Regions from separate parts of the Homo sapiens genome. Here region 2 is linked to region 1. Evidence: fine-mapped expression QTL. A gene starts in region 1. The other region holds a variant in brackets. All regions are shown on one strand. Distances are between the middles of the regions. Region 1 holds the start of PNKD (PNKD metallo-beta-lactamase domain containing). Region 2 overlaps CATIP (ciliogenesis associated TTC17 interacting protein).

Region 1 (5,368 bases):
GTGCTTTTTTTTGCCTCCACACCCTGAATACCTTCTTTGATTCTCTTTATTGTTTCAAGGCTGAGCGGGACCCCACCCTCCTGGCCGGCAGCTCTGAGGGCTTGGTCCCGAGGGCCCGGGGCCTAGGCTGGTTGCACTTAAGTCTCTGGGTTTGCCCCACCATCCAGCTGGGAACACTGAGCTCTGTGAGAGGGAGCACACATGAGTAACCAGCCCCACCCTCTGCCCCTCCCATCCCAAGGGACTCACAAACCCAGACCTGGTTCCTTTCTACTAAACACTCAATAACTTTATTTGCCTTTGGCTGGCTCCTTGGTGTGGGGCAGGGTAGGGTTTGGCAACAGCCTGGGCTTCATGCGCCCTCTGGTGGACCTCAGAGGCACGAACTGGAATCTGGGCCAAACCTGAGGACTTAACAGTCAATAGCCTAGGAGGGTCGCAGCGCTCCTCAGGTCTGCACCCCAGACCCAACATCAGGGGACGGGGCACTCTGGGAGGAAGCCCTGAACCTCTGGCTCTCATACTCGCCCGTGTTGGACAACCGCATGTTCTGCCGAGCCTTCATCTGCTTCACACGGTCCTTGTCCACTTCCCGCTTGGTGAGGATGAAGAGGAGGATACCACAAGGGAAGCCGATGGCCCTACGGGTGGGGAGATGTGCACGGGGTTTGGGGAGGGGCCAAGCCTGAGCCAGAGGAGCTGGGGGGAGTCATTCTAGCTTCATCAGTTGCATGAATGCTGCAATACCTCTTATAGTCTATTCATCCTCTGTGCTGGCTGCTGGAGGGACCCACACAAATCAGATCCTGTCACTTCCCTGCTTAAAACCCCGTAACTCCATCACTTCCTGGCCAAGTCCAAACATGGCACAAAAGGCCCAGTGTGGCTGGGTCTCTGCCTGCCTCTTTCCTCCTCCCGCCTAGAGCCTGATCCTCAGCACGAGCCCTGCATTCCTGCAACAGCACCTGTGCAGGATTTTCCAGGCAGCCCTGACGCTTTCCCTCTCTGAGACTTGGCCAAGGTACCCTCCCAGTTTTCCCCTCTTAAGCTAAGTAACCACTGCTTGGGAGGCACTTTGGTATGGGGGAAAGAGCATGGAGTCACAGACTAGGTGAGAATCCTAGCTCAGTCTCAGTTCCTTCCTCTGTGAAATGGGGATGTAATACTTATCTCAAACACTAAAACATTACATGGCAAAGTACTGGCACACCTCACATGCAGAAAAAAATGTTGATTTCTTCCTCCTTTCTCTTTAATATTGGTCAATAATATGTATTAAGGTCAGAGTCAGAGCCCAATCACAATGTTCATAACGCCTTCTGAGTACTACTATACAACTAGTACAAGCTCACATGATCTCAACGAACTACTTACTTAAACTTGGGTCTCACTCCAAGCTCCCAAAAGGGAGGATGAGGCCAGGGACCCAAGTCTGAATCAGATCAACTCAGCTTACTCCACAGTAAACCCACTGTCTTCTCAATTCCACATACTTTCCCACCTCCACTGCCCCACCCCTCTGAGATTCCAATCGAACCCAACAATTCTGTTCCCACAACTTTGGATTCAGCTCGCCACCTGAAACTTGGAGAAGTTTCTAAGTCCTGCCCTCCCCTACAAGCCACGCCCCGTTGGTGGGCAAAGGGGTGGTTAAAACTCACCAGGCCAGTCCCACAGCTTTCATGGGGTTCTTGCCCCTCTTTCTGGGAATGTATTCCAGCTCCGGGGATAGGGGTTCAGGTTCCTCCTTGCCCTCTGGGGAGCTGTGGCTTTGCAGGGCCCGGGTCCTGTTATGAGAAGCCTTGTTAGCTGTGGCTCCTGCGAGAATCCCTGTGGATGGAGGTAAGGAAGGTCAGTAAGAAGAGATGAGAAGAAAGCAAGCGGGGAGGTGGGGGGCAGTAAGGGCTTGGGAGGAGCGGCTGAGATCTGGGGAAGGGGAGTGACTGCAGTCTGAAGTAAGAAGTGCCAAGGAGAATCCAAAGGGAAATGGGAAAATCGCCACCGAGGTGGCACCTTTGGAAGCCACTTCCACGTCACTGCGGGCTCATCACCCTGGTGCCAGGACGAAAAGCTTCGCTGTTCTTCCTCAGACGACAGCATGGGAAGGACTGCAGTGGGACTCACATAAGACGTATGAAGGAAATCCGGGAAAAGGTTTTGAAACTGCAAATGTTAGCACTGGAAGGGACCTTAAAGATAGTCTACTCCATCCCTTGCACTGTACGGAAGAGGAAACTGAAGCCCTGAGAGAAAAACTGCTTTGCCCAAGGTCAAACTGCTAATTATCCGGGGCTGGAACTCAAACCTCCAGAAGCCCGGGGCTCTTTCCTCTGCACTGCGGTGAGTGTGAAACACCTGGAGCGCGGGAGTCCAACAGGCTTCCTAGGAGCTCCCTCTTGCAGCAAGACCCCGGAGGTGTCGAGCAACCCGAAGGCGGGGGGATGCACTGGGTGACCTCTAAAGAGCATCTCTGCACCCCCAGACTCTAAGATCTTGCAGAAAAGTGTGGGGAGGAACCAAGAGCCCTGACCTCCTGCTATCGTCGGGCTGGACGTGAAAGAAAAGGGATCTTCTGCAGTCCTGCCCTCCCCGGGGTCCCTCTCCTTACCCCGGAGGACGCGGGCATTTCTCGCCCCCCGGCCCTTCAGCGCCGTAGCAGCTACCACCGCCGCCATGTTCAGATCCCACCCCCGCTTCACCGCGCTCCCCGCCGGGAATTGTAGTTTGCGTAAGGGGCCTCCCCCGCTCCTTCCGTCCTGCCTACAGACCAGAAACTACATCTCCCAGAAGCCCGCAGAGCGGACCCAGGAGAACTACTCTTCCCAGGAGACCCCGGAGGCGCGCGCGCTCGCTTGTTTCCCTCCAGTTGGGGGCGGAGTCAGGTGGGGCGGAGTTTGGGTTCTCTCCGCCACGCCCCGGCCCCATCTTCCAATGCCGCTCTGTGATTGGTGAGGCGGCCAGCCAACCTTCGTAGCTATTGGCCGAACGGCCGTCGCTCTTCCTGCTGGGGAGTCGCCTACGCCTACTTCCTGCCGGGAGGAGGGGCTCGAGTTCCGCGTCGTCGCGCAGAGCTGACTCTGGGAGGCGTTTGGGCCCAGAGAAGTGGATCCGCCGCTTGCGCCGCATGGAGTCCGAATCGGAAAGCGGGGCTGCTGCTGACACCCCCCCACTGGAGACCCTAAGCTTCCATGGTGATGAAGAGATTATCGAGGTGGTAGAACTTGATCCCGGTCCGCCGGACCCAGGTGAGAACTGCCGCTCCTCAGGCCATGGGACAGGAGACGCTCACCCCTGGCCTCTGACTCCTGCTTTTCCCCGCTCCCCTCCACACCCGACTGGTCATTCCTACCGATATCCCTCTTCCCCTCCTCCCCCACTCCCACCCTCACACTTAGTTCTCAGGCCTGGCTGGGGTGGGGGTTCCCTGACGCCTCCTCTGGCCCTTCCCCTCACACACCCCCTTCCCATCATCCCCTTGGCCCTCCCTTACCGCACGGTCTCTGGCCAGCCGTGGCCTCCCGTCCTGTGTCCCGCGCGCCCCCGCGGACCCCGGTGTGTCTGACTCCACCTTCCCTTCTCGCCACATGACCCGCCCCAGCCTCAGGCCTCCTCATGCTTCTCTCCGTACCTCTTACCGCCTCCCGAGCCCCATCTTCTAACCCTCTCCCCAAAGCAGATGACCTGGCCCAGGAGATGGAAGATGTGGACTTTGAGGAAGAAGAGGAGGAAGAGGGCAACGAAGAGGGCTGGGTTCTAGAACCCCAGGAAGGGGTGGTCGGCAGCATGGAGGGCCCCGACGATAGCGAGGTCACCTTTGCATTGCACTCAGGTAGGTCTTTGAGGCGATCCACCTCAAATCAGTTTAGGTGGGCGTGTAAGCATTAAACATCAGCCATGGACAGAACGTTATGGGGGACACAGAGATGGGCAAGATGCTGGCCTTGCGCTGGAGGAGCCCACAGGTGGGAAAGTGTGGCAGAATGGATGATTGCTTGGCTTCTGGCATCAGTCGAGACACCCTCTACTTTGCCAGTTAACCTTGATTAACCTCTTAGTTTTCTTTTAAAAAGTTATCTTTGGCCGGGCGTGGTGGCTCACTCCTGAAATCCCAGCACTTTAGGAGGCTGAGGCAGGTGGATCACTTGAGGTCAGGAGTTCGAGACCAGCCTGGCCAACATGGCAAAACCCAGTCTCTACTAAAAATACAAAAATTTGGCTGGGCATGGTGGCTCACGCCTGTAATCCCAGCACTTTAGGAGGCCCAGGCAGGCGGATCACAAGGTCGGGAGTTCCAGACCAGCCTGGCCAATATGGTGAAACCCCGTCTCTACTAAAAATACAAAAATTAGCTGGGCGTGGTAGCGGGCGCCTGTAGTCCCAGCTCCTCGGGAGGTTGAGGCAGGAGAATTGCTTGAACCCGGGAGGCGGAGGTTGCAGTGGACCAAGACTGCGCCATTGCACTCCAGCCTGGGCAACAGAATGAGAGTCTGTCTCCAAAAAAAAAAAAAAAAAAAAAGTTATCTTTGATAAAAGTTAATAAAAGTAGTGAGTATAAAATTAGAGATAATTGGCCAGGTGCGGTGGCTCATGCCTGTAATCACAGCACTTTGGAAGGCCAAGGCGGGTGGATCACCTGAGGTCGGGAGTTCAAGACCAGCCTGGCCGACATGGTGAAACCTCATCTCTACTAAAAATAAAAAAAAAATTAGCTGGGTGTGGTGGCATGTGCCTGTAATCCCAGCTACTCCGGAGGCTGAGGAAGGAGAATCACTTGAACCTGGGAGGCAGAGGTTGCATTGAGCTGAGATTGTGCCACTGCGCTTCGGCCTGGGCGACAGAGCAAGATTCCATCTCAAAAAAATAAAATAAAATGAGAGATAATTATATCTTTTTGAGCATATTTTATATAACTTTCTCAAGTGCTAGTTCTTAGTAAGAAACTGTTGCCAGGCACGGTGGCTCATGCCTGTAATCCCAGCACTTTGGGAGGCCGAGGCGGGTGGATCAGAAGGTTAGGAGTTCGAGACCAGCCTGACCAACATGATGAAACCCCATCTCTACTAAAAATACAAAAATTAGCTGGTTGTGGTGGCGGGCGCCTGTAATCCCAGCTACTCAGGGGGCTGAGGCAGGAGAATTGCTTGAACCTGGGAGGTGGAGGTTGCAGTGAGCTGAGATTGTGCCACTGCACTCCAGCCTGGGCGACAGAGCAAGACTCTGTCTCAAAAAACAAAAAACAAAAAACAAAAAACCCTTAACGTGATGCTCTCCTCGCTCTGTACCCAACCCCGGTGGCATCCCATGCTGACAACTGTAAGCCCTGCACCTGTCCCCACCTCTTGTCCATGGCATTGGTGTTGGGTGGTGA
Region 2 (5,368 bases), 93 kb before region 1:
GAGAGAGAGAAAGAGAGAAAGAGGAAGGAAGGAAGGAGAAAGAAAGAAAAGAAAAATTATGGAATCTCCTGCTATGCGGCATTCAAAATAAAAAGGTTGGCCTGGAGCTGTGGTGCATACCTGTAGTCCCAGCTACTAGGAAGGCTGAAGCAGGTGGATTGCTTGAGCCCAGGAGTTGGAGGCTGCAGTGGGCTATGATCGCACCAAAACCGAAAACATACTAAGTTATGAGATAAAGCCAACAATGTTTTGATTACCTTTTCCCCAGTGTAGTGATTATGTGAATATCTATTCTGAAATTTTAAGAAATAAACTCGACTGGAGTCTGTCTCAAAAAAACAAAACAAAACAAAAAAACAGAAAGAAACTCTTTCTTCCACCTGAATTTTCTTTTTCTTTCTTTTTTTTTTTTGAGACGGAGTCTTGCTGTCACCCAGGCTGGAGTGCAGTGGCGCGATCTCGGCTCACTGCAAGCTCTGCCTCCTGGGTTCACGCCATCCTCCTGCCTCAGCCTCCAGAGTAGCTGGGACTACAGGCGCCCACGACCACACTTGGCTAATTTTTTGTATTTTTAGTAGAGATGGGGTTTCACCGTGTCAGCCAGGATGGTCTCAATTTCCTGACCTCATGATCCGCCCGCCTCAGCCTCCCAAAGTGCTGGGATTACAGGTGTGAGCCACCACGCCCAGCCCTGAATTTTCTTATGATTTGGAGCCAGTGCTTTGCTGGAGACTGCACGGCAGCCTGCCACAGGCAATTCTTCCAGCACAGTGATTTCATCAAGTGTGCAGTCATTCAGACCTTGGTGTTTTTCAGTATTATCCCTTACACAGTGGTGGCTGCACTAGCTACACCCCAGGCCTGTGGTGTGCAGTGAGAAGGTTTGGGAGGCACTGTGAGGGTTAAGAGGACGAGCAAATAAATGAAGAAAGAGTGAATGATATGGATAAAGCGGAGGGACACTCCTATCTCAATGCCAGTTCTTCCTGGTGCTATCCCCAGAAGCAGCCGGTCTCCTTGAGCACCTACAAGCTCAGCACCACCCCTCTGGGCCCACCATCAGCAGCTCACCCATCGGAGAGCAGGTAGTACTGGCAGGACATGGGGATGCCCTCCTCCGCGTGGACAGTCTGCTCCACGATGAAGACTTCAGCCTGCTGATGGTCTACCTGGATGGTCTGGAAGCCCAGGTTTTGCTGGCAACAGCCAAAATTGGGGGGTGGGAGGTAAGGTGGATGCCCGCCAAGGGCTCCCCATCATCTTACCTTAGCCTTTTCTCCATCTCATAACAACCTCAAGACATTTAATATTGCATCTCCAAACCTCCAAGCTGAGTTGGCGACCCCTCATAGGGAGCTAGCTCCAGGTTGCCCTTGCCCTGACCCCTCCCATGTCATCTCGCTGACCAGGTGCTTCTAGTTGGCAAATTCTGTTACAGGGATGAGAAGCGGTATGCGGGGGGGTGTGGGAGCGGAGAGGTAGGATGAGCTACTAGGGCCAGTGGGTGGAGGTAAAGTGAGGCTCAGAGGTGTGAGACCAGACAGATTTGTGGCCACCTCAGACCTGTGCTGTTGCTGGCAGGCTGTCCCTGTTGTGATTAAAACTTAAACCCCTGTTGTAGCTGCAGCTATGGAGAAAAAAGTGCTAATGTTAAACACATGTTTCAAAGAACACGGAGGGGAATGGATTGTGCTTGTTCATGTCAAATGCATTGCTGCTTGGTGTGTTTTGATAGACAAGCCTGGAATGTAATTTACAAAGATGGTCAAAGAAACACAAATCAGCCCCCAAAGTGTCTCACTGGAAATTGTGTGTTCAGTGGCATGGCTTTAAAATCACTGATTGCAGGAAGTCCTAGGCATGCTGATTATGAAATTTTAGTTAAAAACAAAAAACAAAACAAAAACGGAACACCCTTTGGGGTTAAGAAATAATAAAGGAATATTTCAGTAAAGTTGGACATGTTACACTTCCTAAAGTTAAAAAATGATTTATTTTTATTTATTTATTTTTTTGAGACAGAGTCTCCCTCTGTTGCCCAGGCTGGAGTGCAGTTGTGCGATCTCAGCTCACTGCAACCTCCGCCTCCTGGGTTCAAGTGATGCTTCTCCTGCCTCAGCCTCCCGAGTAGCTGGGATTACAGGCACTTGCCACCACACGCAGCTAATAATTTTTGTATTTGTAGTAGAGACAGGGTTTCACCATGTTGGCCAGGCTGATCTTGACCTCCTAACTTCAAGTGATCTGCCCACCTTGGCCTCCCAAAGTGCTGGGATTACAGGCATGAATCACTGCGCCTGGCCAAAATGACGTTTTTTTTTTTTTGTTTTTTTTTTTTGAGACAGAGTCTCGCTCTGTCACCCAGGCGGGAGTGCAGTGGCGCGATCTCGGCTCACTGCAAGCTCTGCCTCCCGGGTTCACGCCATTCT[C/T]CTGCCTCAGCGTCCTGAGTAGCTGGGACTACAGGCGCCTGCCACCACGCCCCGCTGATTTTTTTTTTTTGTATTTTTAGTAGAGGCGGGGTTTCACCATGTTAGCCAGGATGGTCTAGATCTCCTGACCTTGTGATCGGCCCGCCTTGGCCTCCCAAAGTGCTGGGATTACAGGCGTGAGCCACCACACCTGGCCCAAAATGATGTATTTTTTAAATCAGCCCTGCACTATATTTATTTTTCCTGGACTGACTTCTGTGCGGAAGGGTTGCTTCTCTGAACTGTTCCCACTTCTCAGTCACTCTCAATTCATCTGCCCCACACTCCCAGACAAACATGCTTTCCTGCCCTTGAAAGCCCCATTCCCACCTGTGCTGTTTTCTCCCCACCTGCCTCCCTTTTCTACTCCACAGCTGTTCCCCATCTCAGTGCTTTTCACGCCTTTTCTAGTTCGCTCCCAAGCCAAGTCCCCTGCCCAAGGGGACCCCTTACATAGGTCAAATAGCAGAGTTTGCCCTCGGTGTCCAAGGTCAGGAAGCGGGCATTGCTGGGCACCATCCGCCGCCAGGCCATCACCCTGAGCAGCACCAGGTTGGCAGCCTCTGAGATGAAGCCCTTGATTGAGCTCCAGGGGAAAGAAGTCACTCCAGTCTTCACTTCCTGTTCAGAACTGATCTGGGTCAGGGTCCTGGAACCAGGAAGGGGCAGGGGACAGGAGGGTGGGCAAGCCAGGTGTTGGGCATACGGTTTTGTTTTTTTTTGAGACAGAGTTTCGCTTTTTGTCACCCAGGCTGGAGTGCAATGGCGTGGTCTCAGCTCACTGCAACCTCCGCCTCCTTGGTTCAAGCGATCTCCTGCCTCAGCCTTTCAAGTAGCAGGGATTACAGGCTACCATGCCTGGCTAAATTTTGTAATTTTAGTAGAGACCGGATTTCACCATGTTGGCCAGGCTAGTCTTGAACTCCTGACCTGAGGTGATAGGCCCCCTCTGCCTCCCAAAGTGTTGGGATTACAGGCGTGAGCCTTTTTTTTTTTTTTTTTTGAGACAGGGTCTTGCTCTGTTGCCCAGACTGGAGTGCAGTGGTGCGATCTCAGCTCACTGCAACCTCCAGCTCCCAGGTTCAAGCGACTTTCCTGCCTCAGCCTCCTGAGTAGCTGGGATTACAGGCTCACGACACTACGCCCAGCTAATTTTTGTATTTTTATTAGAGGGGATTTCACCATATTGGCCAGGCTGGTCTCCACTCCTGACCTCAAGTGATCCGCCCGCCTTGGCCTCCCAAAGTGCTGAAATTACAGGCGTGAGTCACCACACGCCTGGCCTTCAGCCGGTCATATGGTTTTTAATGAATGAATCCTTGTCTTTTTTTTTTTTCCTTTTTCTGGAGAACGGGGTCTCGCTATATTGCCCAGGCAAGTCTCGAACTCCTAGGCTCAAGCTATCCTCCTGCCTCTTGCTTCTGAGAGCTGGGATTACAGGCGTGAGCCACCGCGCCCAGCCTAATGAATGAATCGTTAGTCTGGACTCCTGGCTTCATCTAATCTGGTCCCCGCTCAGAGTTCTGAAGAGGACATTGTGAAAGAAAAATAAATCTTGGGACCCCAAATCACTAAGCCAAAGGGAAGTCAAGCTGGGAACTGCCTCAGGCAAAGCTGCCTCCCATTTTATTCCTAAACAAGGTAGCTACTAAGAGAAAAAAAAGCTATATAACTCCCTCACTATTTGCCCACAAGGAAATTCCTTGTGGACAAAGGACAGACAGAACTCAAAGTCATCCCTCTGCTCACGTGAGATAAATGCATATCTGATGGCTTTCTCTGCTCTATTGTTTCACTAAGCCAGAGTAAGGCATAAGTGACTACTTTTCTAACCCCCATAGCATGTAAATTGTGTATTCAGTGAAAGGCTAATCGGAAACTTAAAAGCATGTCTCTTATCTACCTATGACTTGGAAGCCCCCTCCCTGCCTCGAGTTGTCCTGCCTTTTCCAATGAACCAATGTACATCTTTTTTTTTTTTTGAGACGGAGTCTTGCTCTGTCGCCCAGGCTGGAGTGCAGTGGCGTGATCTCAGCTTAGTGCAAGCTCCACTTCCCGGGTTCACGCCGTTCTCCTGCCTCACCCTCCCGAGTAGCTGGGACTACAGGCGCCTGCCACCACGCCTGGCTAATTTTTTGTATTTTTACGTCTGGTGAACCAGTGTACATCTTACACGTGTTGATTGATGTTTCGTGTCTCCTTAAAATGTATAAAACCAAGCTGTAGGCTGGGCGTGGTGGCTCACGCCTGTAATCCCAGCACTTTGGGAGGCTGAGGCGGGCGGATCACCTGAGGTCGGGAGTTTGAGACCAGCCTGGCCAACAGGGATGAAACTCCCTCTCTACTAAAAATACAGAATTAGCCGGGCGTGGTGGTGCATGCCCATAATCCCAGCTACTCGGGAGGCTGAGGCAGGAGAATCACTTGAACCCGGGAGGTGGCGGTTGCAGTGAGCCGAGATCACGTCATTGCACTCCAGCCTCTGCAACAAATGTGAAACTCTGTCTCAAAAAAAAAAAAAAAAAACAAGCTGTGCCCCAACCACTTTGGGCCCATTTCCTCAGGACCTCCTGAGGCTGTGTCATGTGCGCGTCCTTAACCTTGGCAAAATAAACTCTCTAAATTGATCTGGACCTGTCTCAGATATTCTGGGTTCACAGTGTGTAGTGCAACTCCCATCTGGCTCTCATCCTTACCTCACCCTCCTTGATACTTCTGGTCACAGCCAGCTGATCATCCTGCTTCAGCAAACTCATCTTCCGTTCCATGGGGAGGATGAGGAACTGAGGGCCAGAGCATGCGGGGGAGGATCAGGGACTCCCTGGGTCCCCCAGAGGTCACCTGACCCTTCTCCATTAATGAGAAAACTGAGGTTTAAAGATTGTGACTTAAAAAAAAAG

Evidence for each region. PIP is the estimated chance that this variant, and not a neighbour inherited with it, causes the effect. A credible set is the group of variants that fine-mapping cannot tell apart.
Region 2: its variant is the best candidate, but not a certain one, in a credible set for the expression of PNKD in whole blood (INTERVAL, PIP 0.60).

The regions. Positions count from the first base shown.
Region 1 is chr2:218,267,843-218,273,210 of GRCh38, reverse strand. PNKD (PNKD metallo-beta-lactamase domain containing) reads right to left here and starts at 2,692. Exons shown (of 10, transcript NM_015488.5): 1 at 2,609-2,692; 2 at 1,662-1,830. The coding sequence starts at 2,675. AAMP (angio associated migratory cell protein) reads left to right here and starts at 3,074. Exons shown (of 11, transcript NM_001087.5): 1 at 3,074-3,245; 2 at 3,677-3,829. The coding sequence starts at 3,125. RefSeq lists enhancers at 2,398-2,447, 2,478-2,857, 3,008-3,327, 3,896-4,781.
Region 2 is chr2:218,360,456-218,365,823 of GRCh38, reverse strand. CATIP (ciliogenesis associated TTC17 interacting protein) reads right to left here. Exons shown (of 10, transcript NM_198559.2): 5 at 5,165-5,251; 6 at 2,922-3,089; 7 at 1,072-1,196. Among named protein-coding and RNA genes, the nearest start is that of CATIP-AS1, 4.8 kb to the left of the region's middle. The variant C/T (reference allele first, on the strand shown) is at 2,430.